Linked DNA regions of Homo sapiens. The protein of the gene in region 2 interacts with the protein of the main gene of each other region in a biochemical or structural test. Each region holds a gene or a part of one and is shown on either strand. Other genes may lie near its edges.

What was found.
Region 1: the proteins of FOXO4 (region 2) and AKT1 form a complex in vitro, tested with the Homo sapiens proteins (2 studies listed by BioGRID, with this or other methods).
Region 3: the proteins of FOXO4 (region 2) and XPO1 form a complex in vitro, tested with the Homo sapiens proteins (one study listed by BioGRID).
Region 4: the proteins of FOXO4 (region 2) and PIN1 form a complex in vitro, tested with the Homo sapiens proteins (one study listed by BioGRID).

The regions. Positions count from the first base shown.
Region 1 is NC_000014.9:104,778,058-104,786,399, forward strand, and holds part of AKT1 (RAC-alpha serine/threonine-protein kinase), read right to left. Parts: intron 2,160-8,342; coding exon 2,031-2,159; intron 1-2,030. UniProt on the Homo sapiens protein: AKT1 is one of 3 closely related serine/threonine-protein kinases (AKT1, AKT2 and AKT3) called the AKT kinase, and which regulate many processes including metabolism, proliferation, cell survival, growth and angiogenesis.
Region 2 is NC_000023.11:71,097,509-71,104,032, forward strand, and holds the end of FOXO4 (forkhead box protein O4), read left to right. Parts: intron 1-3,175; coding exon 3,176-4,232; intron 4,233-4,568; coding exon 4,569-4,576; 3' UTR 4,577-6,024; downstream 6,025-6,524. Other genes in the region: uncharacterized protein CXorf65, read right to left, coding at 6,479-6,524. UniProt on the Homo sapiens protein: Transcription factor involved in the regulation of the insulin signaling pathway. Binds to insulin-response elements (IREs) and can activate transcription of IGFBP1.
Region 3 is NC_000002.12:61,485,772-61,494,113, reverse strand, and holds part of XPO1 (exportin-1), read left to right. Parts: intron 1-22; coding exon 23-220; intron 221-1,060; coding exon 1,061-1,199; intron 1,200-1,365; coding exon 1,366-1,547; intron 1,548-1,632; coding exon 1,633-1,789; intron 1,790-1,915; coding exon 1,916-2,079; intron 2,080-3,337; coding exon 3,338-3,472; intron 3,473-5,342; coding exon 5,343-5,526; intron 5,527-5,842; coding exon 5,843-5,949; intron 5,950-8,151; coding exon 8,152-8,342. UniProt on the Homo sapiens protein: Mediates the nuclear export of cellular proteins (cargos) bearing a leucine-rich nuclear export signal (NES) and of RNAs.
Region 4 is NC_000019.10:9,844,787-9,851,000, forward strand, and holds the end of PIN1 (peptidyl-prolyl cis-trans isomerase NIMA-interacting 1), read left to right. Parts: intron 1-3,243; coding exon 3,244-3,354; intron 3,355-4,303; coding exon 4,304-4,413; 3' UTR 4,414-4,903; downstream 4,904-6,214. UniProt on the Homo sapiens protein: Peptidyl-prolyl cis/trans isomerase (PPIase) that binds to and isomerizes specific phosphorylated Ser/Thr-Pro (pSer/Thr-Pro) motifs.

The DNA.
Region 1 (8,342 bases), on a different chromosome or scaffold from region 2:
CTTGGCCAGGCGCTCCAGGCCACTCACCTATGGCCTAATCTGAAGGCCCCAGCCTTGCCAGCTGCTCAGGCAACACCTCCAGCTGGTACCCACCCGTGTGCCTCTCCAGAGAGCTCCCCACCTCGTTCCTTCCCAATGCCTCGGCCTGGCGAGCACACCCACAGCACCCACCCCCAGCAAGGCCCTGTCCCAGGTGCCACCAGGCACGCTGCTGGCACCCAGCCTCTCCCTGATCCCTGAAGCCCCCAGCCCCAACCGAGGAGACACTGGGGAGGGTGTGGGACAAGTCACAGTGAGTCTCCTGCATGGTTACGAGGCTGTCAGGAGACAGGGGTGTCTGCCTTCCTGGTCTCCCCTCACCCCTGGGGTGCCCTACTCTATCAGGCTGCCCTGCTACTGCTGGCTTGAGGCTGGAAGAGCCAGGGAAGGAGACCTCGGCTTACAGGAACCAGGTCCTGGTAAACCCCACCCCAACCCCAGCCCCTCAGCCTGGGGCTTTGCAGGGCAAGGCCTCTGCCCCTCCCAACTAGAAGCTTCAGGGCACGGTTTGCTGGCCACAGACCACCTAGCAGCCAGGGTGCCAGACTGACCCCACCTCCCCTTATACGTGCAGGCACCAAGGGTGGGAGTCCTTCCCTGCCCAGCCTGGGGACGGATTCCCTGCATTTAACCTCCTCCCAGACCCTGGACCAGAACCTGGGGGTCCAGCAAGTTCAAGGGAGTCGGAGGACCGCAGGCCTCAAAGAAAGGAGGGCAGAGCTACTTGGAGGGGAGGGGCCGATGCAGCACATGGGGATGGAACCTAAGGCCAGCCCCTGGTGGGCACCTCGCTCTGCACCACAGACCTGCCTGAGACAGATCCCAGAGGCCTGCAGTTACCCAGCCCTGCCACATACAGATGGCCCACAACTGGGCCCTAATTAGCCACTCAGTCACACCTGCATGCCCAACCCGTGTCTCTGGCTGCCACAGGCAGAGCTGGGCTCCAGGACAGGGACACAGAAAATGGGGACCATGCTGGGAGGCCCACGTGTCCCCAGCCTCCCACCTAGCAGGGCGCCTGGGTCTCCATGCCAGGGTTCCCGTCTGACATGGGTAGGGTCGCACCTGCCCCCGCTACAGGTAAGGAATAAAGCCACAGCAGGGCGGAGCAGGGAGCGTCACATGTCTCTCATCTCTGTGGGATGCTCCGGCCAAGGTCCCCCGCTGGCCTTTCTGCACCTGCCCCTCCATGGGCAAGGAGGCAGCCTCACAGAGGGGAAGCAAAGGCTCTGCCATGGGGTCTGGAGGCTGAGAGCCTGTGCAGGGAGAGGCACGAGCTCTTCCTCGAGTGATGGAGGCTTCAGAGCTGGAGACCCCAATGGACTCTTGCCCCCTCACCCAAGGGGTTTCCCAAGGAGAGGCCCTGATGGGCTCTATCTAACCCCCTTGGAGGAGGGGCCCCCGGGGCAGCTGTCCACCCTGAGACTGGGCTCTGCTGCCACTTGTCCGGACCCTCCAGCTTCCAGAGCATGGGCACCAGGGAACTGCTCCAGGGTCAGCCAGCCTTGGGACTCGGCCCAGAGACCCCCGCCCAGCCAGCCTCGGCCTCAGGACTCTGCCCAGAAACCCCTGCCCAGCCGGCCTCGGCCTCGGGACTCAGCCCAGAGACCCCGGCCCAGCCAGCCTCGGCCTCGGGACTCGGACCAGAGACCCCCGCCCAGCCAGCCTCAGGACTCAGCTCGGAGACCCCTGCCCAGCCAGCCTCGGCCTCGGGACTTGGACCAGAGACCCCTGCCCAGCCAGCCTCGGCCTTAGGACTCAGCCTGGAGACTCCCACCCAGCCAGCCTCAGCTTTGGGACTCAGCCCGGAGACCCCTGCCCAGCCAGCCTCGGGACTCGGCCCAGAGACCCCCACCCAGCCAGTGCTTGTTGCTTGCCAGCCCAGGACTTGGAGGCTCCAGGGGACCCCCATCGTGGGGCCTGGTGGGCAAAGAGGGCTCCAGCCAACCCCCCAAATCTGAATCCCGAGAGGCCAAGGGGATACTTACGCGCCACAGAGAAGTTGTTGAGGGGAGCCTCACGTTGGTCCACATCCTGCGGCCGCTCCTTGTAGCCAATGAAGGTGCCATCATTCTTGAGGAGGAAGTAGCGTGGCCGCCAGGTCTTGATGTACTCCCCTACAGACGTGCGGGTGGTGAGAGCCACGCACACTCTACCCGTCAGACCCTCGCCAGGCAGCCAGGCAGGAACTGGGTGTGCCAGGACAGATGTGCCTGGGATGCCTGAGTCCCAGGGGGCAGGCGCGGTACGGGAGCTGTTTCTTAGGGCCAGCGACAGAAACGGCCCTGGGTCAACGGGAAGGCAGACTCGCCCCACCACAGCGCCCCTCTCAGAAGAGCCACCCCGAGCTGTGTCTGAAAACGGGCTGGGCCAGCTGGACGCAGGGGATGGAGTACCATGGACAGGAGGCTGGGAAGAGGTCTGGGCCAGTCTGCACAGCCTTCCTGGAGGAGGCAGCCCTAAACCAGCCAGTCCCCAGCAGGCACCAGCAGCAGCTCGGGCCCCAGCTATGGCCACAGGGGCTGCGGGGCTGACAGCATTCCCCAATCAACCAGGGTCGGCCAGGTGGCGACAGCAGGTGACAGTGGCTTGTGTGGGCTGCCCAGCATGGCCGCCCCCCCCGCCCCGCCGCCACCCACCAGGAGGATGGAGCATGGCGTCCACAGTTAGAGGTCAGCACCACTCAGACTGAGGGCCGGGCTCGCGGGACAGGACTGCCCACTGCCGTGGGATCGCACTCCCTGTCTAGGGGCCTGGAGCACCGTCTTGGGGACTGCCGATGAAGCCAGACACGGAGGTGGCCCAGCCAGCTGGGCAGGGGCCCCAGGGCACAGAGGGTGCCAAGTCCCCAGGCTGAGACCCACACTCAGGCCCTGCCGCCGTCGGCCCTGCCGCGTCCCACCCGTGGGTCATTCAGGTACACGGGAACATTCTCCCTCAAGTTTTGCAGCATCAGCCGTACGCAGGCGTTCACACTTCAGAATCAGAGCAGCTGTCCTCGGTGATAGCCCAGCAAGTACCATTTTTCATACTGACACTCGGAAAAAAATGTTCCACTTACATTTTGCCAAGCAAGGAGTTTGAACAACAGGGAACTTACTAATTAGGCAACTGCTTCATCTGAGGGGTCACTGGGCAGGGGTTAGGGAGGGGGCCAGGGTAAGGGGTTGGGGTCCCTGAGCTCTGGGGCCTGGGTTTTCATGCCACACTGAGCCCCAGACAGGGACACCTGGAGGGATGTGGGGGACAAGCAATTGTCCCATCACCAGACCACCCACCACCCAGTCCTGCTGGGTCTTCGTGGTGAGCCCAGACGCGTCCAGCCCTCCCTGGTGCACAGGGAAGTCCCAGCAGGGCAGCAGCCCCAGGGGAGCTCAGAGGACATGGGTCATGGGCATCCCAGCAGGCATTCTACTTTCCAGGGAGCCACGGGGGAGTTCTTTAATAGAGGTGAGCCACCAAGGCTCGACACATGGCCACCCCCCGGCCAGGTGACCTCTCCCTCCTACCCCGGCCCCAGCTGCCCAATGCCCTTCCCACCAGCACCACGGGGCGTGGTCTCCACAAGACCAGCCCTCTCTCTGCCCAAGCCAGGGCTGCTGGGGGGATGCTGGTGGAGGGTGGGGACACCCCACCCAGCAGGGCCTGAGTGTGGGAAGAGGCTGTTGTCAGGTCTGGGGTGGACCAGGAAGGGGACAGCCACAGCCCACTCATAGCTGCCTGACACCTCTGGAGGACGGCCAACACCCAGTTGCAGGGAGGATGATCCAGGGCCCAGAATCTGCCCCTGTGCCCAAGAGCACTCATCAGGAGACCCCACCCACTCCGCAAGCCCTCCATGCCCCTGCCAGTGGGCTGCCGAGCAGGCGTGGTCCTGCCACCCTTGGGTGCCGGCTCCTGTCCCTGACCTGGGATCTCGCACACCCCCGAGTGTGCACATACACGCACATACGTGCCACGCAGCTCCACCCCGCCTCCCACGTCCCCTCCCCCAGCCACAGGGCCCCTGCAGGTGCAGCGGGCAGGCAGGGGCGCTCAGTGAGAGCAGAGCAGGCTCAGGGGGCTGCATGCAGCCCACCCCACCCGTCCCCCATCCTGGGCCACCCCGCTGCTCACGCCCACCCGCCTGCATGCCAGTCTGGAGCTGTCGGCCCCTGATGGAGTGCCTCCCATCCTGCCAGCTGCCACTCCCCGGGACGCTAACTGAGCGGGAAGACTGATGAGCGCCCAGGCCCGGCACCCCTGAAACCCATCTTATCCACCAACTGCTGCCAGCCCCCACCGTGCCCAGCATGGCCCCGTGCTGCCCCCGAGCACGCAGCTCCCGTGCCCAACCCCAGCCTTGCCCCTGACCCTGCTGCCACAAGCCCAGCCCCAGGTTCTGTGAGCTGCATCTGGGGGGTTCTGGGAGCTGGATCTGGGGGTGCGGGAGGGGCAGGCCCAGGGGCGGCGCTTACCAGGCGTGGGGGGTGGGAGAGGACAGGTGCCCAGCCCCGAGCATTCCTGGGGAGTCCTGGGATGGGCAGAGGCCCAAATGGGCCCTGGGCTTTCAGTGCCTTCCCCTCGCCTGGCCCCACAGACCCAGGGAACAGACGGCGATCAGGGCCTACCCCAGGAGACGGGTGTGAGTGAAGGGGCCTCACGTGGCCTTTGTCTTCGGCATCCCAGCCCAGCACACAGACCCCTCCAGGGGAGGAGCAGGATCCCCAGGGACCCGGGGTAAGGGGTCCAGAGACACACAGTTCTCTTTCTTCATCTCTCGCCTAGAGGGTCAGCTAGAGGATCACTTGGGGGGGTGCCAGCTGCAGCCAGGGCCGTGGCGCGCATCTTAACGAGTTCAGCCCAGACAGGATGCTGGGTGGGCGGCCAGCCCCGACAGCAGATGCGGCAGGGCCCCACTACTCCCTGATCCAGGACTGGGGTGACACAGGACGGGGCAGGTGGAGGAGACAGCCACCCGGGGCCCAGCATCACTGTCCTCATGGCCACAGGACGCCTGCAGGCCTGCACCTGCCTACTCCGGGTCCCTCAGGAGGGTGGGAGCACAGACACATCAGCCAGGGCTGCCCTCCCAGACCCCTCACACAAAGAGACCAACCCACATGGAGTCTTCTCCTTCACTATCCTGAGGGTCCCCAGGGGAACTGGAACCTGTCATCCAGGACTTAACTTGAGTTCCCCACCCTGTTGTGGTCCTCAGATGCCCCCCACTCGAGGCAGGAGTACAGTCCACTTGAAGAGTGGCCTCTCAATCCCTGACACCCCAGGAAAAGTGCCCTGCATTGCTGGGGGAACTGGAACCAGGCAGTAGGGACCTCGTCCTCCACACCGACCATGGGAAGCACCCGCCACAGAGGGGCCTTCCATCTCCCCACCATCAGCCAGCTGGCATCCCCCCACCCCACCCCAGTCACCCCCCCAACACCACCCCACCCACCTGCCTGCACAGCTGAGGGCACCAAACACAGAGTGGGCACAGACCCCCAGGTTGCCACGCCAGGCCCTCACTCCAGACGGGTACAGGCAGGCAACAAATGGGGAGGCCAGGGCACGCCCCACCCCACACACAGCCAGAGTCATCTCCTGCCAGCAGCCACTCCCAAGGGCAATGGAGACCGCCCAGCATTCAGGCCCAGGGGGCCTCTTCAGTCCCTAACTCTCACACCCCCATGCTGGGCTCAAGAACCCCCAAGTCCCCACCCGCTGCACATGTTTCAGACCCGGGACCTGGAGCAGGCAGGGTCCCAGTGCAACCCCGGCCTGGGCCTCAGGGTCTGGCAGGGAAGACGGCTAGGTGCCCCTTCAGAAATGTCAGCAAGTCCGGATGGGGGACCCCACACCACTGCCAGAAGACCTGAGTGGGGGGCCGAGTGGAGGACGGCACTGGGGACTGGTCCCACCTTCCTGCCCCATGGCTGGTCCCCTGGGCAAGGGGGAAGCAGCAGCTCCGGTCCCACCCTCCTGCCCCATGGCCGGTTCCCTCGGCAGCGGGGAAGCAGCAGTTCCAGTCTCACCCTCCTGCTGGCCCCCTGGGCAGTGGGAGGCAGCAGCTCCGGTCCCACCCTTCAGGGTTCTCTCAAGGCCAGCCCTGGGCCAGGTGGGAGCCACCCTGACCCTTAACCCTGTGACACTGCACCTATCCAAGACCAGGTCCTGTGAAGCCACAAGGGCAGGGGCTCCTGTGCCTGATGAAACCCGTAACCCTCCCCACCAGCCAGCACATCCATGGCCCAGGGCTCCAGGCATGGGAGGTGGCTGCCCTCGGTGGGGGGTAGGCAGTTGGCCAGACTCCTGTCCCTGCCCGGGGGGACAGCGGAGACCAGGCTCCCTCGACTCCTCCTGCACCTCCTGGGCCCCACACAACCCCAGCCCTGGTCCCTCTGGCATCCCGATGTCCCGGGTGGCCCTCCGGCAGGAGTGACCTTCCATCCCCAACCCCGCTCATCCCCAGGAAGGGGCTGGAGCACCCCCAGGGAAAGAGGGTTCCTTCCCAGAAGTCCTCCTGGACCAAATACCGGGGTTCTGAGAGGAAGCTGCTCCTGCCTGGCCTCCCCCAACCCACCCCACCACCACCACGGGGACCACATGGACAGTCACAGGCAGCCCACCCTCTCCACGCCTCACACACGTGTCCCAGGCCACACTGTGGGTCAGGCCCCCCAAAGCGGCACCCACTTAGACATGGGGGCCAGGACCCACGCGCCATGGGCAGGACTGGGTGGGCCCCTGAGGGCCAGCTGGTGGCCCTCCACGTCCCGGGACTGACCACCTCCTGAGCCACCAGGTGTGTCAGCCCCCCTAGGCCACCACGTCCTCAGCTCCCTGAACATTCTCTCAAAGTCCCCAGTTCTCAGGAAACTGCTGGATAAACACTTCGCAGAGACGGTGGTGGCAGCGGCTGGCAGGGTGCCAGGCGGCACCGAGCTGCTTCTCCACAGCAAAGTGAGCCCAGCAGGCCCTGGGAGCGGGCGCCAGCTGACAGCGGCCACCGTGGTCCCCACTGCCGACACATCCATCGCCCCGACAGCTGCCGGGGGCCCATTTACCTTCTCCAGCACATTGAGCAGACGGCTCCGCTGACGGCAGCCCATGAGGGGCCCGCAACCCACCCTCCCCGCCTGCCAGGAGACCGCACAGCTCACCGCGAAGGGCCCGGCCTGCCAGGCCTCTGCCCGGGCCCGGGAGTACACACCCCTTTACCAGCAGCCCTCGAACCCTGTAAACAACCAGGCTGGGGTGGGGGCAGGGGAGGGGCCACACAACGGAGGCCAGCTGACCCCACTTGGCTGGAGCCCCCAGGTCTGTGGGTGAAATACATCCACTGCTCCTCCCGGCACAAGCCCTTCTGAGGGGGCACAAGTGGCCAGTCTGCACAAGGAGAGGTGTCTGTTCCCGCCAGGCAGAGGACTGGCGCTCCACCTGCCTGGGCCTCGCCCAGCCCAGGACCCATTCTGCTCTCCCAGAAAGCCCACCAGGCAGGCAGGGCGGGCAGGGCTCATCATGCCCATCAGCTCCCTGGGAAAACGGAGACTTAGGGGAGGTGACCCTCAGAGGCAGATCATGACCAGAGAGACCCCAGGTCCTGCCGCCAAGGCAGGGGTTGTAACTTGACACAAACTGCAAATTCTTCACCTCCTTCCGCTCCACCATGGAGCAGGCCTCAGCCCGACACACACACCCCGGGAGGAACATGGTGCGGGCAGGCGGCACCACCATGACCCCGTCCACCTCGCTGAGGCACAGCCGGAGGCGCTGGGGCCTCTCTTCCTGCCACTCCAGGGAAGCACCTGGGTCTCAGCTTTCCATTCTCCTGGGGCTCTACTGGGTGGGGTACTGGGCCTCCCTGGTGCTGCCCCTGACAGACCACCTGGGCCTGGATGTCCTCCCCCACAGGCACTGCCCGTCACCCACCCCTCGGGCCGGCAAAGGCACCCCACCTGCCACACACCCATCCATCGCAGAGCCCAGCACATCCCAAGACCCTGTCCCTGTCCCTGTCCCCCACCTCATTTTTGGTCTGCCCCAAACAAGCCCCACCCATGTCATGGCCCACCCTGCCTACTCAGGACCCCTGCAGATGAGGCTGCAGCCCCTCCCTGGCGCCTCCTACTCTGCCCCCGCCCACTCTCCCCATAACTTGCAGCAGGCTTTGCCAAGTGCCCTCCACCCAGTGGGTTCCCAGGGCCCTCACCCTCGCTCCCTGCGTGGGAGGAAGCTGGGCATGGGGACAGCACACAGTGCCTGCTGCGAGGGAGGGCTGGCCACAGTGTCCCACGTGTAGACACTGCCCTCGGGAAAGG
Region 2 (6,524 bases):
CAATAATATTCATGGGGAAAGGTAGCTGATCTCATGCACTAAGAAGAAAAAGGGCTGTGAGCTGCCACTTGGCTCAGCTTACCCTGTGCTGCCAAGAAACTCTCCCTTGTAAGGGGCTATCCAAGTTTTGGGGGGAAGTCATCCTTTACTGTTAAGGAATATTAGTCATGAAGAAGGAGGTAGGGCTCTGACTTTAGAGCACAAAGTTGGGAGTTCTCTTGGCCTTCTGTGAAGAAACTGTGAGAGAATATCTCAAAGGATACTCTGAAAAACTTGTCCTGAGAAAATATGGGGCTGTAATCACAAAATTGGGGAGCCTCAAGCCCTATTGCTGGCTTGTACCTCTCTAGGTGGTGAGGTCAGCATATAACCAAGTACAGAAGGTTGGATGAGCAGAGGAACTTCCCCTAGGTATAGGAGACTGAGGGATCAGATCTGTGCTATCCCTAGGGGCTGGGCAGAACAGAAGATAGGACAGCTGACTGAGACCCTTGGCACTATTTCTGGGTAGACTGCCACGCCACAGTCTCAGCTCATAAAAAGCTCCCCTCCTTGGACCCAGCCTACACAGCTGTTTTTCTTTTCCCTTAGGTTCATTTTCCAGGGTAGAGGAAATAACAAGTTGTTAGTTATATTGTGGGAGTATAGTCCGTCCTTATAATCTACACTTCTGTGGGGCTTTAGAGTTTACAAAGTAGTTTTTAAAGTTTTTATTTTATTAATCTTTACAGCAATTCTGAGATTCCACATTTTACACATTAGGAAACTAGGTACCAAAAGGTTAGGAAATTCACCTAATAACAGCAGGGTGAGGACTTGAACTCAGGTCTAACTATAAATCATATTCTCTAAAAAGAGCCTGGCTTGCTCTAATTGGAATGAGGGCAAAGTCAAATCAGGCTGAGCCTGGGACTTCAAGGCCCCCCCACCCCTCTCTGAGGGGAAGTCTCATGCCTGAACTGGCCTCCCTGATGATATGCCAAGGTTACTCCCACCCCACCAGGGGGCGGCACTCACTTAGAACAAGAAAGTTTAGATTAGGTGGCTTAGGGAGCAATTAGCAGTCACCCCCACCACCCTGCCCTCCAACATGTAAGAGTTATGGGCTTTTGGGAAACTGACCTCTCCAATTAAGAGTCTGTGTACCACTTGCTAGTTCCAAGGCCTAAAGAAGAGGAGACAAACGGGCCTTGTGGCTATTAAGTAGTAGGGAAAGGAATGGATCTTCTCAAGTAGATCCAGAATTAGAGGATAAAAAGAGGAGAAATCATAGTGCCAGGTCATGGTCATTGTGGTCCTTAGTTACTATGAGGTGAGGCCGGATGGACAAGTGCCACTCCTTGAAGGAACATCAGCACAGTTGAAATGCCATTACCTCAGGGTCCCAGGAACACAAGGAGTTCTTTGGCTAAAGAACCCTGGAACAAGAAGCATCATTCCCCAGGCAAAGGTGCTCCTTATCTTAAGAGCACCAGTCAGAGAAACAAGTAGTTTCTGACCGTCCCATGTACTCAGCCTCCTAGTTGCTCTAAGCACTTCTGGGCTCCTCCTGAATTTCTAAACTAAAGACCTCCAAGTGGGAGGTCAAATGCCCCCAAGGTTGAAGAGTTTATGCACAAATTCCTGAGAAATGGGGGAAAGGCACTGGGAAGGAGGTAGGGAAAAGAAGGCAGGTTTCGGGAAGGGGGGTGGCCAGGGGAGGGCCAAACCCCTTGTGTAACTAGCCTGCCCCGCGGCAATCAGTAAATATAAGCTGCACTGGGGGCTGAAGAAGCTGCCAATCTCAGCTCCCTGGGCCACTGGAAAGCATCGTTTCCCTAGTAGAATGTCACCAGTGAGGGAGGAAGGGAAAACATACAGCTTCCAATACCCAAGGCACTGAAGAGCTGGCAGAGCCTCAAGGGGAGCCTCACCATTGTCAACCCAGGGGCAACCCACCAATCAGGTACAAATATTGATTATGTACTGTGAGCTTGAGTAGGTATAGAATATGTGCTGTGAGCTTGGTGCTCTGGGAGGGCTTTGATGGGGGATGTGGGACTGGAGGACATTACACTTGGCACTTACACTCGATGAGACGAATTACATGAAACCATAAGCCACACAATATAAATTGGGTGAAATTGTGTGGCGCAGATTTTAAAAATACTATACTAGAAATTTGGCTGCCAAAGTCAAGCAGCCGCTTTATAAAAGAGGTGGAACTGAAGCTTGGTCTTGACGGAACTAGTAAAACTTAGAGAGGGGAGATCCCTCCTCGGAAAAGAGGGGAGGGGAAGATTGCACCTCACGCATTTGAGGCACAGCAGGAAGCCTGAACCTGAACTGAATGTAGTTGAGGATGTGTGTTGTGGATTGGAAGAAATAAGGCTGGGATTCAGGGAGGGGGGAAAAAGGAATCTTTAAATTCTATAGAGAGCTGGGTGGCCCAAATGCTCTGTGGGGAATGGAGCACCTGCTGTGCTGAGATTCCAGCCCTTCAGCCTATTCAGAGAACTGGCTCTGGGCAGGGCGGGTCCATCCTGGGCTGGTGCTGTACCACTGTCCCGTAAACTCTACCCAAACCTGCACTCAAGGAAAGGGGTGCAATGCTCTTTCCCACCTGAACCTAGTTCTTGCTGGGCAAGGAGCACGTCTCCCCAGTGCCCACCAGCCCCAGGTACCGCTCCCCCCACCCCCCGCAAAACACACACGAAGCCCTGGGAAGAGCAGAGTACCAGGAGCTTTTCCAGGGTGGGCATCCCCCGTGCTCTCTGCAGTGGATTATTACACGTTATCTCCCACCCGCTGTACAGAGAAGTCTGGAGCAGAGGCTGAGCAGCTTGTCTGGGAGCGGGAAATGTGTGTGGTCTCCCCTCACACCCCACCCCCACCCCTACTTCTACCAGTTTTCCCCCCTGGATTCAACTTTCTTTGAGTCTCCAGGAATACCCCTGCTGTGTTCCAGCACCCTTTTATCTTTTATCTTTTTCTCTTTTTTTGTAAATTATTTAAAGTTTTTCTTAAACTTTAATGACCTGGGAAATGAAGCCCCGAAATGAACCCTGCTGCGGTGGTGGCACCAAATCCTAAACCCTAGATCATCAGGGTCCAGCATCCTCTTAGACTTGACCGCTGGCCACTGACCTCCCCTACAGTACCTCACGCCCCTTTCCTGCCATCTCTGCCCCTCCAGAACTCGATCCGCCACAACCTGTCCCTGCACAGCAAGTTCATCAAGGTTCACAACGAGGCCACCGGCAAAAGCTCTTGGTGGATGCTGAACCCTGAGGGAGGCAAGAGCGGCAAAGCCCCCCGCCGCCGGGCCGCCTCCATGGATAGCAGCAGCAAGCTGCTCCGGGGCCGCAGTAAAGCCCCCAAGAAGAAACCATCTGTGCTGCCAGCTCCACCCGAAGGTGCCACTCCAACGAGCCCTGTCGGCCACTTTGCCAAGTGGTCAGGCAGCCCTTGCTCTCGAAACCGTGAAGAAGCCGATATGTGGACCACCTTCCGTCCACGAAGCAGTTCAAATGCCAGCAGTGTCAGCACCCGGCTGTCCCCCTTGAGGCCAGAGTCTGAGGTGCTGGCGGAGGAAATACCAGCTTCAGTCAGCAGTTATGCAGGGGGTGTCCCTCCCACCCTCAATGAAGGTCTAGAGCTGTTAGATGGGCTCAATCTCACCTCTTCCCATTCCCTGCTATCTCGGAGTGGTCTCTCTGGCTTCTCTTTGCAGCATCCTGGGGTTACCGGCCCCTTACACACCTACAGCAGCTCCCTTTTCAGCCCAGCAGAGGGGCCCCTGTCAGCAGGAGAAGGGTGCTTCTCCAGCTCCCAGGCTCTGGAGGCCCTGCTCACCTCTGATACGCCACCACCCCCTGCTGACGTCCTCATGACCCAGGTAGATCCCATTCTGTCCCAGGCTCCGACTCTTCTGTTGCTGGGGGGGCTTCCTTCCTCCAGTAAGCTGGCCACGGGCGTCGGCCTGTGTCCCAAGCCCCTAGAGGCTCCAGGCCCCAGCAGTCTGGTTCCCACCCTTTCTATGATAGCACCACCTCCAGTCATGGCAAGTGCCCCCATCCCCAAGGCTCTGGGGACTCCTGTGCTCACACCCCCTACTGAAGCTGCAAGCCAAGACAGAATGCCTCAGGATCTAGATCTTGATATGTATATGGAGAACCTGGAGTGTGACATGGATAACATCATCAGTGACCTCATGGATGAGGGCGAGGGACTGGACTTCAACTTTGAGCCAGGTACAGTACCCCCTAATCACCACAGCACCTCATAGCCTATTACCACTCCTAGGTGCCCAGCTAGTCCCATGATCTGGGCGAAGGGGAGATTTAGGACAAGTGGTAGCCAGAGCTCCTGGGGAACTGGAGGGAAGATGTCATATTACAGTAGCATAGTTTCCGGATGGGACCTCCAGGCCCCTTAGCTGTGCCCAGCCCTGCAAGGTAGCACAGAAAAGGTATGTGTATGGAAGCGGGTTAGGTGCCACCATCTTCTTTGGTGGGAATCTGGATGATAGAATGTTGGCAAGCCCCAGGTAAGCCTCTTACCTTGTTCTCTGTTTCTTCTTCCCACAGATCCCTGAGTCATGCCTGGAAGCTTTGTCCCCTGCTTCAGATGTGGAGCCAGGCGTGTTCATATCTACTCTTTACCCTTGAGCCCTCCCCAGGAATTTGGGACCCTGCTTTAGAGCTAGGGTGGGGTCTGGTCACACACAGGTGTTGAAGAAATTATAAAGATAAAGCTGCCCCATCTGGGGACGATATGGGGAGGGAGATGGGAGGGGAAAGGGGAGAGGGTTTTTCTCACTGTGCCAATTAGGGGGTAAGGCCCCCTCTCAGGAGCCATCATCGGCTTTCCCCATTCCTACCCACTTAGGCTTTGTAGCAAGATGAGCAATGCTGTTGGAAATGTGAAGTCACCAGTGGCCTTACCCCTGCCTTTGGGAGCAGGATTTTTTTGTAGAGAGTCTTATCTGAGCTGAGCCAGGCTAGCTGGAGCCTGGGATTTCTATGCAGTGGCCCCTTAGGCCAGTGATGTGCGGTGGGTGGGCTGTTTAGGGGATCTGGAAGGGCCAAGGTCTGAGCACTGGAGTGGCTCGCCAGGCCAAATCACCCTTAGAAGGCTGCAGATAACAGAAAGGCTTTTTATAAACTTTTAAAGAAATATAAACACAAATATAGAGATTTTTTAACCATGGCAGGGTGCTAGTGGTGGGCAGAATGCTTTTTTTTCTTTCTGAAGGCTTTGTGATAGTGACATGATACAAACACTACAGACAATAAATATTAGGAGACACAGGGAAGTGGGGAGAGGTGGGGAGTAATAGTAAACACAGGGAAGAGCTCCCCTACGGACCAGGTATAGAGAAAGGTCTATGCAGAAATAGGTTAGAGTTTCCCTAACAAAAAAGCTAACCCAGGTCCCCTCATTCCTTCAACTTGTGCCTGGGAGTGTGTGGTGTTAGGGTGCAGCCACACTCTTCTATGACCCAGCATGGGTTAGTGCTATGGTGGGAGAGTACATTGAAGGCCTGGAATTAGCTTGGGGCCAGGGAAGGGACTGGGAGGGGAGAGAAGAGAAGGAGGGAAGGATTTAGGATGGTAAAGTTAGGTACAGAGACCTCCCTGTTCAAGGCCCCTGACAGCTGTCCCTGCCCTTCTTCCCCTTCCCTGACTGCAGGGGTTATGTGGAAGTGTGTGTGGCAGCAGGCAGCGGGGAGGGGAGGAACAGGGAAGGGGGAGCTGGGGAGCTTGGCTGAGGGTCTGGGAAATGAGCAGGGATGGGGGGGGATGTGGATCAGGTTTACTAGCACCTGCCAGGGAGGCCATCTGGGGCTCCTTCTCCACCCCAGCCCCCAAAGCAGCCCTTCCCCCAGTGCCCTTTGCATCGTCCCCTCCCCCACCCCTGCTGTGGGTTCCCATCATTTCCTGTGTCAGCGCCTGGCCTACCCAGATTGTATCATGTGCTAGATTGGAGTGGGGAAGTGTGTCAAATCAATAAATGAATAAATTCAATAAATGCCTATAACCAGCTCTGGTTTCTGCTGCCTTGCTTCTCCCCTTGGATAAGGGGGAGGGAGGGGAAAAGGCAAAGGGCGGGAGGAAGAAACTGCCCAAAGGCAGAGACATGGAGGAGGGTGGGGGAATTTCACCCCGGGGAGGTGGTGGAGTGTGGGGGTGGAGGGACACCTAACCCCTGCAGGAGTAGGCGGGCTGTGAGATAGGCCTCCCAAGGGGAGGTAGTCTGGTTTGAGAAGACCCCACCCCCTACTCCGTTCCTCAAAGGCTCATTGTACTAGACTTCACAGCCTTCCTCACCCCCACCCATGTGCTTGCCCCAGCCCTCTCCTGCCGCTCCCATCCACCCTCAGAGCCTCCTAGGTGCCTGGGGCGTATGTACTCAAGCCTTAGTGCAGATATTGGGAGAAGGAGTCTTTCTAGAAAAAGAAATCTCACGTTAAATTCCAGTAATTTCACACCTAGTATTACTTCTTTTGCTTGGTGGTTTTATTGAGTTGGCGACCTTTATTC
Region 3 (8,342 bases), on a different chromosome or scaffold from region 2:
ACAGTTTTGGTCTTCTGTGTAGGCCCTTCATTATATGTTGTTGGTATCTGAAGTAGAAGAAACTGAAATCTTTAAAATTTGTCTTGAATACTGGAATCATTTGGCTGCTGAACTCTATAGAGAGAGTCCATTCTCTACATCTGCCTCTCCGTTGCTTTCTGGAAGTCAACATTTTGATGTTCCTCCCAGGAGACAGCTATATTTGCCCATGTTATTCAAGGTAACAGAGCGGTTGGTTGAGTGTTCTTCCTGTTGCATACTGTGGTTTTGAGGTCTGAATCCAAATACTTCTAATCTGTGTAAATAAATTAGCTATAAAAAGAGAACCCAACAACTTCTCCATGAGTGTGGAAAACTAGAACATGAAAGGAGTTGAGTCTAGAACCTTGATTCTCAAGAGTGTGGTCCTTCTCTCAGTATCAACATTGGTTGTGATTTCGTTAGGCAAATTCATTGGCCACCTGCCAATCTACTAAACCAGAGTCTAGGAATGAGACACAGGAAACTCCTGTAACAGAAGTTGGTTAAAAAAATCACATTAAAACACACTTAAATAATTATAAAGCCATTTTTGTAGAATTACAGTGAAAAAAAATTTTTTCTTTTGGAGACAGGGTCTTGCTCTGTGGCTCAGGTTGGAGTGCAGTGGCGTGGTCATAGCTCACTACAATCTTGAACTCCTAGACTAAAGCAATTCTCTTGTGTCAGCCTCCCAAGTAATTGGTTGCAGGCACACACCACCATGCCTAGCAAATTTTAAATTTTTTAGTTTTACTTCATTTATATTTACATAGTTTTTTCTGTTGTGCTTTAAGCCCCAGTATTTTTATTGTTTTAGAGATTGGGTGTCATTTTGTGTTGCTCAAGCTGCTCTCAAATTCCTGGCCACAACAGTTCTTTTTGCCTCGGCCCTCCGGAATAGTTGGAATTATAGGCATGAATCCCTACACATGGCTGGCTTGTGGTTTTTTTGGTTTTGTTTGTTTTTAACTAAGCTTCTACACTAATGATTTCAGTGATCTAACGATTTTTTTCTTGATTGATATATTGTTGAGTATAGGTCCGTTTATTAATGGTTAGTCGAATGGCTAAACCAGAGGAAGTATTGGTTGTAGAGAATGATCAAGGAGAAGTTGTGAGAGAATTCATGAAGGATACAGATTCCATAAATTTGTATAAGAATATGAGGGAAACATTGGGTAAGTTAATAAATACTGTTAATCTTTACCTTTATAAATCTATTCTGGGGTGGAAATACATTTTAGGAAATGTACTTGTAGTTTCTAAATATTTTCTAAATGTATTGTTACTCATCAATAAAATTCTGCTCATTATTTGCATTTGAAACCATGTTTTTCTTTGTAGTTTATCTTACTCATCTGGATTATGTAGATACAGAAAGAATAATGACAGAGAAGCTTCACAATCAAGTGAATGGTACAGAGTGGTCATGGAAAAATTTGAATACATTGTGTTGGGCAATAGGCTCCATTAGTGGAGCAATGCATGAAGAGGACGAAAAACGATTTCTTGTTACTGTTATAAAGGTATGCAAGGGATAGGTATGAATTAGAATTGCTAAATAAGTATTATGTTGTTACAATAAATAATACAAATTTGTCTTATTTACAGGATCTATTAGGATTATGTGAACAGAAAAGAGGCAAAGATAATAAAGCTATTATTGCATCAAATATCATGTACATAGTAGGTCAATACCCACGTTTTTTGAGAGCTCACTGGAAATTTCTGAAGACTGTAGTTAACAAGCTGTTCGAATTCATGCATGGTAAATCTCTTTCTTTACTATATTTTGCTTTTATTTTTATTGAAGAAAATAAATGAATGTTTTTGTCTTGTTAGAGACCCATGATGGAGTCCAGGACAAAATAAATGAATATTTTTGTCTTGTTAGAGACCCATGATGGAGTCCAGGATATGGCTTGTGATACTTTCATTAAAATAGCCCAAAAATGCCGCAGGCATTTCGTTCAGGTTCAGGTTGGAGAAGTGATGCCATTTATTGATGAAATTTTGAACAACATTAACACTATTATTTGTGATCTTCAGCCTCAACAGGTATGTTAAGCACTGAGCATATGTTATTTTTAGAAAGTAACACTTGTATCAATCTGTATGTATCAATGGAAATAGGAGGGCAACTATTGGATCCAATAGAAGTGTTTCTGATTAAATTTTCTTTCTTTTTTCCTTGAGACAGGGTCTTACTCTGTTGCCCAGGCTTGAGTGCAGTGGCACAATTACGGCTCACTGCAGCCTTGAACTCCCAGGCTCAGGTGATCCTCCCACCTTGGCCTCGTGGGTAGCTGGGACTACAGGCATGCACTGCCATCACACTCAGCTAACCTTTTTCCCCCCCTTGGTAGAGATGGGGTTTTGCCAAGTGGCCCAGGCTGGTCTTGAACTCCTAGCTTCAAGCGATACGCTTGCCTCAGCCTCCCAAAATGATTTTATATGTGTGAGCCACCACGCCCAGCCTGGTTAAATTTTCATAGTGAGACAGATTCTTGACCAGAAGATTGTTAGGCTGTTGTCCTATGTAAAATTATTCCGAACAAACAAAATCAGGTGTTTTTTGTTTTGTTTTGTTTTGGGGTGTGTGTGTGTGTGTGTGTGTGTGTGTGTGTGTGTGTTTGTTTTTTGAGATGGAGTTTCACTCTGTCGTCCATGCTGGAGTGCAGTGGCGCAATCTCGGCTCACTGCAGCCTTGCCTCCTGGGGTCAAACGATTCTCTTCCTCAGTGGCTATGATTAACAGGTGCTTGCCACCACGCCCAGCTAATTTTTTTATTTTTAGTAGAGACGGGGTTTCTCCATGTTGGTCAGGCTCATCTCCAACTCCTGACCTCATGATCCGCCCGCCTCGGCCTCCCAAAGTGCTGGGATTACAGGCGTGAGCCACCACCATGCCTGGCCAGTTTGGGTTGTTTGTTTGTTTGTTTTTTGAGGTGGAGTCTTCCTCTGTCACCCAGGCTCGAGTGCAGTATTGCAATCTCGGCTCACTGCAACCTCTGCCTCCCAGGTTCAAGCAATTCAAACCTCCCAAGTAACTGGAATTATAGGCACCTGCCACCACGCTTGGCTAATTTCTTTGTATTTGTAGAAGAGATGGGGTTTCACCACGTTGGTCAGGCTGGTCTGCAACTCCTGACCACAAGTGATTGGCCTGCCTTGGCTTCTCAAAGTATTGGGATTACAGGAGTGATCCACTGCACCTGGGCCAAAATCAGTTTCAAGACGTTTGTGAATTGCTTGTGTGTGGTTTTCCTTATTAGGGTGTATAACATAAACGTTAAAATGTCTGCTTTTTAAAATAGGTTCATACGTTTTATGAAGCTGTGGGGTACATGATTGGTGCACAAACAGATCAAACAGTACAAGAACACTTGATAGAAAAGTACATGTTACTCCCTAATCAAGTGTGGGATAGTATAATCCAGCAGGCAACCAAAGTAAGTATTTCTACCTTTTCTTAAAAGTTTTCATGGGATTTAACAAGACGTGTTCTTTACAAATGTATTGAATTCAAGCCTTTTAACATGTATGTGTGATCCATAAGTGCTTTTATGTGTGTCTTTCTATAATTTATTATCTGGGCGAGGTGTGGTGGCTCACGCCTGTAATCCTGGCACATTGGAAGGCCGAGGCGGGCGGATCACCTGAGGCCAGAAGTTCGAGATCAGCCTGGCCAACATGGCAAAACCCCGTCTCTACTAAAAATACAAAAATTAGCTGGGCGTGGTTGCACATGCCTGTAATCCCAGCTACTGAGGAGGCTTAGGCAGGAGAATCACTTGAACCCAAGAGGCAGAGGTTGCAGTGAGCCGAGATTGAGCTACTGTTCTCTAGCCGAGACGACAGAGCAAGACTCTGTCTCAAAAAAAAAAAAATAAATGAAAAATCTGGGCCGGGCTCGGTGGCTCACGCCTGTAATCCCAGCACTTTGGGAGACCGAGACGGGTGGATCACTAGGTCAGGAGATTGAGACCATCCTGGCCAACGTGGTGAAACCCCGTCTCTACTAAAAATACAAAAATTAGCCAGGCATGGTGGTGGGCGCCTGTAATCCCAGCTACTCGGGAGGCTGAGCCAGGAGAATGGCTTGAACCCAGGAGGCGGAGCTTGCAGTGAGTCAAGAGCATGCCACTGCACTCCAGCCTGGTGACAGAGGAAGACTCTGTCTCAAAAAAAAAAAAAAATACTGTAATTTCCATTCTCATTTGATATTAAAATAGGAATAGGCTGGGTGTGGTGGCTCATGCCTGTAATCCCAGCACTTTGGGAGGCCGAGGCAGGCGGATCACCAGGTCAGGGGATCGAGACCATCATGGCTAACGCAGTGAAACCCTGTCTCTACTAAAAATACAAAAATTAGCTGAGTGTGGCGGCGGGCGCCTGTAAGTCCCAGCTACTCAGGAGGCTGAGGCAGGAGAATGGCGTGAACCTGGGAGGCAGAGCTTGCAGTGAGCCGAGATCACGCCGCTGCACTCTAGCCTGGGCAACAGAACGAGACTCCGTCCCAAAAAAAAAAAAATAGAACTATATTACTTCATTCTTAAGTAGATGTAGACAAAAAGGCGTTTGTGTTCGTTTTTACCATTTGGGATTATAAATATGGTTTAGGGTAAGGGAAGCGTAATGGCTTTTGCTTTGGTAATTATGTGGATTTTTTTTTTTTTTGAGATGGAGTTTCACTCTTGGTGCCCGGGCTGGAGTGCAATGGCGTGATCTCGGCTCACTGCAACCTCTGCCTCCCGAGCTCAAGCAGTTCTCCTGCCTCAGCCTCCCAAGTGGCTGGGATTACAAGCAAGCACCATTGTGCCTGGCTAATTTTGTATTTTTAGTAGAGACAGGGTTTCTCCATGTTGGTCAGGCTGGTCTTGAACTCCCGACCTCAGGTGATGCACCCGACTCAGCCTCCCAAAGTGCTGGGATTATAGGTGTGAGCCACCTCGCCTGGCCATTATGATGGATAATTCTTTTTTTTTTTTTGAGACGGAGTCTTGCTCTTTCGCCCAGGCTGGAGTGCAGTGGTGCGATCTCGGCTCACTGCAAACTCCATCTCTAGCGTTCACGCCGTTCTCCTGCCTCAACCTCCCGAGTAGGTGGGACTACAGGCGGCTGCCACCACGCCTGGCTATTTTTTTTGTATTTTTAGTAGAGACGGGGTTTCACCGTGTTATCCAGGATGGTCCCGATCTCCTGAACTCATCATCCGCCCGCCTCGGCCTCTCAGAGTGCTGGGATTACAGGCGTGAGCCACTGTTCCCAGCCGTGGATAATTCTTATATGATAAATGGAATTTGCTTTTTTTCCTCCAAGAATGTGGATATACTGAAAGATCCTGAAACAGTCAAGCAGCTTGGTAGCATTTTGAAAACAAATGTGAGAGCCTGCAAAGCTGTTGGACACCCCTTTGTAATTCAGCTTGGAAGAATTTATTTAGATATGCTTAATGTATACAAGTGCCTCAGTGAAAATATTTCTGCAGCTATCCAAGCTAATGGTAGGTGATTCTGATTTCTTACACAATGCAGTATAAACAAACCACTTCTCTTCTACTGCCTTAAGTCAAACATTTGATGTTTTTTACAGATTTAAATCAGACCTCCCATTTCCCAAATGACCCTAGACATATTTAAAACAGTTAAGTGTACCTTTCCCTTTTAAAATTAGTCTTAAAGCTTATTTTCCCAATAAATTTTGTGAACTTTTGGCTTTAAACTTTTTAATGGTAAAATGGAATTGCATCTAATGTACACCTGAGTACCACTGTATAAGTTTAGTGGTAAAATTAGATTCCATTTGATTCTGTTTTGTAGGTGAAATGGTTACAAAGCAACCATTGATTAGAAGTATGCGAACTGTAAAAAGGGAAACTTTAAAGTTAATATCTGGTTGGGTGAGCCGATCCAATGATCCACAGATGGTAAGTGAGAGATGCTTTGCTTTTGATTTCTAGTGTTGATGCTGTGTTTTATGGAATATGCTATACTCTATTATGTGCATTTTGCTAATTTAAAGCATATCAACTTTGTGGTTATTTTATGGCATTTTATTTATTGTAGTCCTTACGTTAATATACTAATAGCTGTATTCCATCTTCAAAAGAAACTGCTGTTAATCAGTAGCGAAGGGTGGTGATATGTAACAAGATAGCTAAGAAAATTGGGTCATTTTATGTTTCCATAGATAGGTTAGGAGGATTTAATTAATGGAGTACCGGTGCAGTTTTTGCATTCCTCTTGATTTTTAGAACAATTGCTAGAGCTACAAAGTTGTCATTACTTTACCTCTTTAGCAAAGTGATTGCTTCCCAGATTAAAGGCCTGAAAGTCTTTTTTACACCCTTTTTCCTAAATGATTTGCAGAAAAGGAAATCATTTTCAGTAATAAAAACCAGCTGCGTATGCCTCAACTTGTAAAATTGTGAATTAGTTTTAGGTTTTAACTGTATCGTTTCATTCTTGTTATTCAATTGAGCCTTGGGAGAGTCCAAAAAATTCTAATACTACTATTACTTGGAATAGTGTTGGTTTTTTGTTTTTTGGTTTTTTTTTTTACAAGTGTGCTAGTTATTTTCATAGTTTTGAAATTTCAGTATTGTTTCTTGTTAAGGAAATACTTTTCAGTAAACTTGTTCTGAATATAATTCTTGTGGAATACTTAAGTTGGCTAACCTAAATATCGAAAGGTTCTGAACATGCGTATTATGTGAACAGAACTGTATTTAAAATTTGAAAGCAGAAAGTAAGATGTATTGAAGGAATTGTGATGTTTGTAATTTACAAGAAGCTTGAGCACGTGTCGGGAGCACAGTGGGAATAATACAAAGGGTATCATCTTTTGTAACATTAATGTTAAAGTTTGGGATATTTGTTCACATGAAACATTGTGTTTATTTTCCTTGTCTTGGCTTTTCACGGTGGCTCATGCCTGTAATCCCAGCACTTTGGGAGGCCGAGGCGGGTGGATCACTTGAAGTCAGGAGGCTGAGGCAGGAGAATCACTTGAACCCCAGAGGTGGAGGTGACAGTGAGCCAAGATTGCGCCATTGCACCCCAGTCTGGGCCACAAGTGGGAAACTTCGTCTCAAAAAAAAAAAAAGAACAAGAAGTTACTCTTTAAGTATAACTCAGTTTACTTAGAATCATGAAAATCTTACTGGGCATTGTAGCATGCACCTGTAATCCCAACCACCAGGGAGGGTAAGGCAGGCGAATCACCCCAGCTCAAGTCCAGTTTAGGCAACATGGCAAGATTCAGTTTCAAAAAAATAATAGAAATCCATAGTCTTTCTTATTTTCTGAGAGTAATTGATTGATGTTATTTCTGCTTGTGAAAATACTCACCAGTTAGCATTCATTAGATTAAAACATTAGTCTGAGTTGGGTGGATCACGAGGTCAGGAAATCAAGACCATCCTGGCTAACACGGTGAAACACCCCGTCTCTACTAAAAATATAAAAAATTAGCTGGGCGTGGTGGCAGGTGCCTGTACTCCCAGCTACTCGATAGGCTGAGGCAGGAGAATGGCGTGAACCTGGAGGCGGAGCTTGCAGTGAGCCAAGATGGCACCACTGCACTCCAGCCTGGGCGACAGAGCAAGACTCCGTCTCAAAAATAAAAAGACAGTATTGAGGGCTCGCTTGCTGCCATCTTACATATACAGTATACGTAGAATCCTGATTCTGCCACCTAAGTTGGAGACACCCACTGAATTTTGAGCCTCACTTTTCTTATTGTGAGAGTTTTGTAGCTGGGCATGGTGCTATACCTATAGTCCCAGCTACTCAGGAGACTGAGGCACAAGAATTGCTTGAACCTGGGAGGTGGAGGTTGCAGTGAGCAGAGATTTGCCACTGCACTCTGGTCTGAGTGACAGTGAGACTGTCTCAAAAAAAAAAAGTCTTGAATGACAGTGTGTCCATGAGACTTCCCAACCCATTGTGATTTCCTGCTTTCTTTTGCTAAAAACTGTTTTGACGTAGGAAACCCTAATACAAACACAAGATTTTCCTGTTTTCAGTAGATGATCATGCTACATCTCATAGACAGGAATAACCTTGTTGTTTAAAATAGTCACCATGTACCTAAATTAAAACATAACTTTTTTTTCCCTCCCCAACAGGTCGCTGAAAATTTTGTTCCCCCTCTGTTGGATGCAGTTCTCATTGATTATCAGAGAAATGTCCCAGCTGCTAGAGAACCAGAAGTGCTTAGTACTATGGCCATAATTGTCAACAAGTTAGGGGGACATATAACAGCTGAAATACCTCAAATATTTGATGCTGTTTTTGAATGCACATTGAATATGATAAA
Region 4 (6,214 bases), on a different chromosome or scaffold from region 2:
TCCAGCATTTCTGCTTCGAGCCCCGTGGTAGATCCCTGTCTCCCTCCTTCCCCATGGCCTATTTCTGTCTCATTTATTCATTAACTTCTTGAACATTCGTGAACACCTGTTTTGTGCACAGTGCTGGGTTCTGAGGGTGCAGCAATGAAGAAGGCCAACCCAGCAGCCTCCATTCCTGCACTGTGAGGCGGGCAAGCAACACACCAATGGGACGGTAGTAAATGCAGCACCCAGGGGGAGGCACCTAACACAGTGGGGGATTAGGGGAGGCTTCTTGGGGAGACCAGAGGATAGCTGATGAGTTTCAGGCAGGACAAGAGGCTTAAACCAAGGTCTGCGAGGTGGGAGTCGGAGGATGTCATTGTCGCGGGGTCAGGTACAGGCTGAGCTAACAAGACACACAGGACCAAACCCCTCAAGGTCAGCCTCACAGAGCAGGAACTCAGGAAGAAAGCGTTTTTGTTTGTTTGTTTGTTTGTTTGTTTGTTTGTTTGAAATGGAGTTTCGCTCTTGTTGCCCACGCTGGAGTGCAGTGGCAACGATCTCAGCTCACTGTACCTTCTACCTCCCAGTTTCAAGAGAAAGCGTTTTTTTGTTTGTTTGTTTGTTTGTTTGTTTGTTTGAAATGGAGTTTCGCTCTTGTTGCCCACGCTGGAGTGCAGTGGCAACGATCTCAGCTCACTGTACCTTTCTACCTCCCAGGTTCAAGAGAAAGCGTTTTAAAAAAAAAAATCATTCCAGCTACTTGCGAGGCTGAGGCAAGAGGATTGCTGCAGCCCAGGGGTTTGAGGCCAGCCTGAACAATAAAGTGCGACCCCATCTCTGCAAAAGGAAAACAAAAACAGTCATTGCAGGCTCCCATCATAGCAGAAAATTTTCCAAGAGAGCTGGCAGGTCAGAGGCAGATCTGGGTGATATGAGCTATTGGTGTGCCAAAGTGTGGCTTTTATTTGTTTTTAAGTGGTATGGCTTGCACACTATGTGTGTGAGAGAGGACAACTTGGGCGGGCTGTCCAATTTCAGGGATCCCTGTGGCTGTGTCCCCAGCCCTGGCCGCTGGGGGCTGTGGCAAGGTGATGCTTGTTCAGGGCCTGGGCCTGGCTCCTCAGACGCTCAGTGCCTGCAGGCAGTCCTGCTTCCCCGAAGTAGGTGGGTACCTCTGGGGGCACCGTGCGATCCCCTGGCTGGCTTAGTGGTCCAGACAGAAGGGGGGACAGGGGACTCCAGTGCTCTGTGCCTAAGGCCAAGGAGATACCTAGAAGTTCAGGGAGAGGAGGGGTGGGAGGGGGTCCTAGCAACATCTGGTTTAAGTCGGAGTCACTGGTGGATGTGTCTGGCACAGAGGAGGACCCCGTGGCAGCCCTGGAAGCGGGGCATTCTGATCAAACCAGGGCATCACGGGCAGAAGCCTCTGTAATGTGCCATCCCAACAGAAGCTGGGGCCCTGTATGGCATCGATGTCCCTGTCAGACCAGGACACGTGGGCCGGCAGGGCCAAGGATAGGGAGAGCAGAGCAGTAGAGGCTGCGTCATCCCTGGGATGCAGTCCCCATGGAGGGGAAGAATGATGACAGCAAGGGACGTTGGTCAGGGTCCTGCTCGGTGCCGGGCACTATGCTGCATGTCACAGCCACTGGCACAAGACTGTCAGGCGGAGGGGCACAGGGATGTCAGGGCAGCAGGTCGTGGTGACATCCAGCTCAGATACCAGGACACTGGTGGCTGCCATGACGTGCAGCCAAACAGGGAGCTATGGCTGTGCTCTCACGGTGGTACCATTTCCACTGCAGTCCCAAGCAGGTTAGAGCGTGAGGCCGAGGGGCCCTGGGGACACTTGGATCAGTCCAGTGTGTTCAGCAGGTGCCACGGTTGGGTGTCCAGGCCTCCCAGCACTGGCTAGGTCACCCAGCAGTGTTCCCGTGGGTCTCCAACAGGCTCCAGGCCAGTGTATCAGCTATGTATGTCCTGGGCAAGTTGGCCGGCAGGTGTGTCATGGCATCATTTAGGTCAGAAGGAGCAAGGGTAGAAGTGTCAGGGTGACATTAAGAAACCCCCTACTGAGTGTGTCAGGGTGACCTTCACGTTGGAGAGAAGAACTGGTGTCCCTGGAGAGTGGCTGCCAGGCCTTAGGGTACACGGGGCGGGTGCAGTTCACCCAGAGGGCTGCCCTGGCTTGCTGGGGCTGTCGCACCACTGGCCTAGGGAGGACACTGGAAGGGACGCCCGTTTGTGTCAGAGCAAGAGGATTGGGGTAGGGCAGGCTTTGGCCCATGGGCACCTTCCTGGGGGTGGCCTGGAGTCAGGAAGGCGGTAGCCATTCCTCCTGACCTGGCACGTGCACAAGACTGCATACACACACTTGCTCACACACAGTCACACCACACACACCACGTGCACACACACGCAGCCCTCCCCACTTGGCTTCCGAAACGTGAGTCACTCAGATGCTACTCTGCTGCCGTCTTGCCCCCTCTGCTGGCAGCCCTGTTCCTCCTAACTCCACCAGCCCTGGCCTCCTCCGCCTCCTGGAGAGTCAGAGCCGATGGGCTAGTTTGGGCCACACAGGGTGGGGCCACCCTGAGTTCTGCCAGCATGCAGACTGTAGGTGGGGAGCCGGGAGAAGAGCTATGTTGCCTGCCTCTGGGACCCTGGGGCTACAGCCCACGAGTGTCCCTTGCAGAGCCCACCAGGGTGCCTTGGAGGCCCATCCCAGTGCCAGGCTGTTCTTCCCAGATGGGACAGCTGGGGCCACAGGCTGCCGTGGCAGTGCTGGGCTTTCTCTGGACAGCTCTCCCACCTCTGCCCAGGGGGCCCGGGGGGCCAGCCCCCTGCCTGGGTCAGCCTCTCCCTGCCTGCTGCTCTCCTCTGGCCCATCCAGCTTGTATGTAGATTTTCCCTCACGTGTGTGTGTGTGTGTGCATGTGTGTGTGCTGGTGAGAGTGACAGCGGGAGCAGGGATGTGAGACCTGCAGGGTGGCAGGGCTCATGGATGACTGGCGGGGTGCATTAAGTGCTCATGCTCGTGAAAGGCACCTCTTCTTGGGTGTGGGTGAGGACAGGTGTGACTGCGCATGCAGGTATGTGTGAGGAGAGGGGTTGTGGGGAGCATGTGCGCCTGTGAGGGGAGGCTTTCCAACTGAAGTGCTGCCTCCCCCGCTGGCCAGCTCTGGAGTCCTCCATCCTGTCTGGTCAGGCCCCCCCCAACCCCTGACCTGGCACTCCCATTCCGTTCCATGTCCACAGGCTACATCCAGAAGATCAAGTCGGGAGAGGAGGACTTTGAGTCTCTGGCCTCACAGTTCAGCGACTGCAGCTCAGCCAAGGCCAGGGGAGACCTGGGTGCCTTCAGCAGAGGTGCGCAAGGAATGGGCCTCACCAGGTTGGGGGACCCTTACCACCCTGAGGGGTAGAGGCCAGGAGGGTCTGGGCATTGGGCTCCCAGGTGCCACACCGGCCTTCGGGGTCCAGCAGGTGGCAGCACAGCCCCTTCCTCAGGCTTCAGAGGCTGCTCTGCTGGGCAGGGCCAGGGCCACACAGGGAGGGGGGCTGCAGCACTTTCTTCCTGGCATCATCTCTACCCTGGGGGGCATGGTCTCTTGTGTGTCTGTGCACAGATGTCCTCATCCCAGGCCCACCAAGGTGGGTACATCCTGTCCTCTGCCTCTTCCTTTTTGTGGTTTAAGGTTGAGGGCCCTGAGAGTCCCAGGGCCTGTCCCCCAGAATCCCTCTCAAAGGTGGGGAAACCAGGGGTGAGAGGAGGTGGCCCTGAGTTTAGGCCTGTCTGGCCAGGACAGTGGAAATCAGGGACAGAGGGGACTAGGCCTCCTCCTCTTCCTCCTCTTCAGTCCTCGGGGTCTACAGAAAAACATCAGGGAGAGGCCAGGATGGGTTGCAGGGTGTGGTGTGCAGGTGTCTTAGTGGGGTGGGGCGGCAGCATGGGGCCAGCAGCTGCCCACCTCCTCCGAGGAGGCTGGTGGGACAGATGACATGGCAGGGCTGGGAACCAGGCCCAGGGAGACGAGTTCACTACCGAAGTGGCCCCTAAATGCACGGCGGCGGCCGTAGCCCTGCCTGCTATCCTTCATGCTGTCCTCGGGCTTCCCAGGGCCTCCTTAATGGCCCTGCCACCCCCAGCTGGGCCGCCGCTCAGCACTGGCAATAAACATGGTGACGGATGAGTGTGGACGAGTGTGAGGCTCAGCGCAGGCAGGAGCCCCATCTGTCGCGGCTGCCACCCGCCCTGCCTCATCCTGGCCTCTGCCAGCCCAGCCCTGACACCCCCACCGCCCCTCCTGGCTCCCAGGTCAGATGCAGAAGCCATTTGAAGACGCCTCGTTTGCGCTGCGGACGGGGGAGATGAGCGGGCCCGTGTTCACGGATTCCGGCATCCACATCATCCTCCGCACTGAGTGAGGGTGGGGAGCCCAGGCCTGGCCTCGGGGCAGGGCAGGGCGGCTAGGCCGGCCAGCTCCCCCTTGCCCGCCAGCCAGTGGCCGAACCCCCCACTCCCTGCCACCGTCACACAGTATTTATTGTTCCCACAATGGCTGGGAGGGGGCCCTTCCAGATTGGGGGCCCTGGGGTCCCCACTCCCTGTCCATCCCCAGTTGGGGCTGCGACCGCCAGATTCTCCCTTAAGGAATTGACTTCAGCAGGGGTGGGAGGCTCCCAGACCCAGGGCAGTGTGGTGGGAGGGGTGTTCCAAAGAGAAGGCCTGGTCAGCAGAGCCGCCCCGTGTCCCCCCAGGTGCTGGAGGCAGACTCGAGGGCCGAATTGTTTCTAGTTAGGCCACGCTCCTCTGTTCAGTCGCAAAGGTGAACACTCATGCGGCCCAGCCATGGGCCCTCTGAGCAACTGTGCAGCACCCTTTCACCCCCAATTAAACCCAGAACCACTGCTCTGCTCTCCTGTGTCTCATTTCTCCTCAGGGAAGCATAGTGGGGAAGATGTCGTGGGGAGGGGATCATAGCCCCCCCATCCTAAGGGTCCCAGCTGCAAGTTCTCCCCCGAGGCTTCCCCTTGCCCTGGGCCAGGGGGAGTCACAGCAGCTGGCTCTTGGGGACATGGGCACTGTCCAGCTGCCCAGCACCCTGAGATCTGCTTCCCTGCCATCTCAGGGGCTTCCAGAAGGTTCGTGGGTCCAACCCGGCACCTGGCCCAGCACCCATTGCAGCTGCAGTTACCATGACAACAGGGCCCTCCCGGACTGGAGGGGGCTCCTGCAGGGAGGGGGATGGGAGCAGACATGGCTTTTAGTGCCTGAAGGTGGAGCAGAGGGAATCCTGGGGTGGGTGGCGGGGAGATGGGGTCCCCCGCCAGTGTGGGGGCTGTGGATGTGGCATGCCTGACCCCCATCCCCTGTTCAGTCGGGGGGCTGTGGGTCTGATGGAGAAGTGGTTATTCCTGCATGCCCTGTTCCCCCTCCACTTGATGGGGACCAGCCCAGATTGCGGGGGTGCCTGGCTGGCAGAGCTTAGGGACCTGAGCAACTAAAGCCCGGCCCCAGGGGACCTCCCCTCCCCCAAGCGCTGAGTTTCTAATAAAGGCCAAGCCTCATAAACAATCACCTGTGCCCGCTCCCATCTGGCTGGCTTCGGGAGCAATCGCTCATTCGCCTGCTGCCTGCCTGCCGGAGCATTTGTCATTAGGAAGGTTTAATGGGTTTCCTCTCAGCTCCAGAGGGCTGGGGAGAGCCGGCTGCATGGATACACCGCCAGGCAGAATGTTCTCCCATCGCCTGGTGGAGGGGGGTTGGGAGTGAGGCAGCCATGCCACCATTCACACCAACAGTTGGATGTGGGGTTGGGGAAGTGACTGCACCCCTCCTGGAACAGTAGAGGCCCTGGGTCTGGAAGGATCGGAAATTAGTGGCTGGGGCCCAGAGGGTTTGCTGAGTTCCACTCCAGGGTGAAGAATGGGCTTTGTGTCCTGACCATCAGCAGCAGGGCCCAGGGAAGGCTGTGCATCGTTCTGTGTGGGAGCCGCTGCCCCCACCCGTGTGTATGTGTGTCTGCGTTTGCCCAAGAATGTGTGGGGCCATGTGACTGGTCGTCTCTCTGTCCTGTGCATTTTGGGAGTCCTCCGGTTCTGAGAGTCCTCCGGTTCTGAGTGTGACCACCTGCCCCTCCAGGTACCCCCTTCCCTTGTCTGTCTGTGCAGTGGCCAAAACCCAAATGAGAATGTCGCTGTTAGGTAAACATGCCTCCAGAGCCCA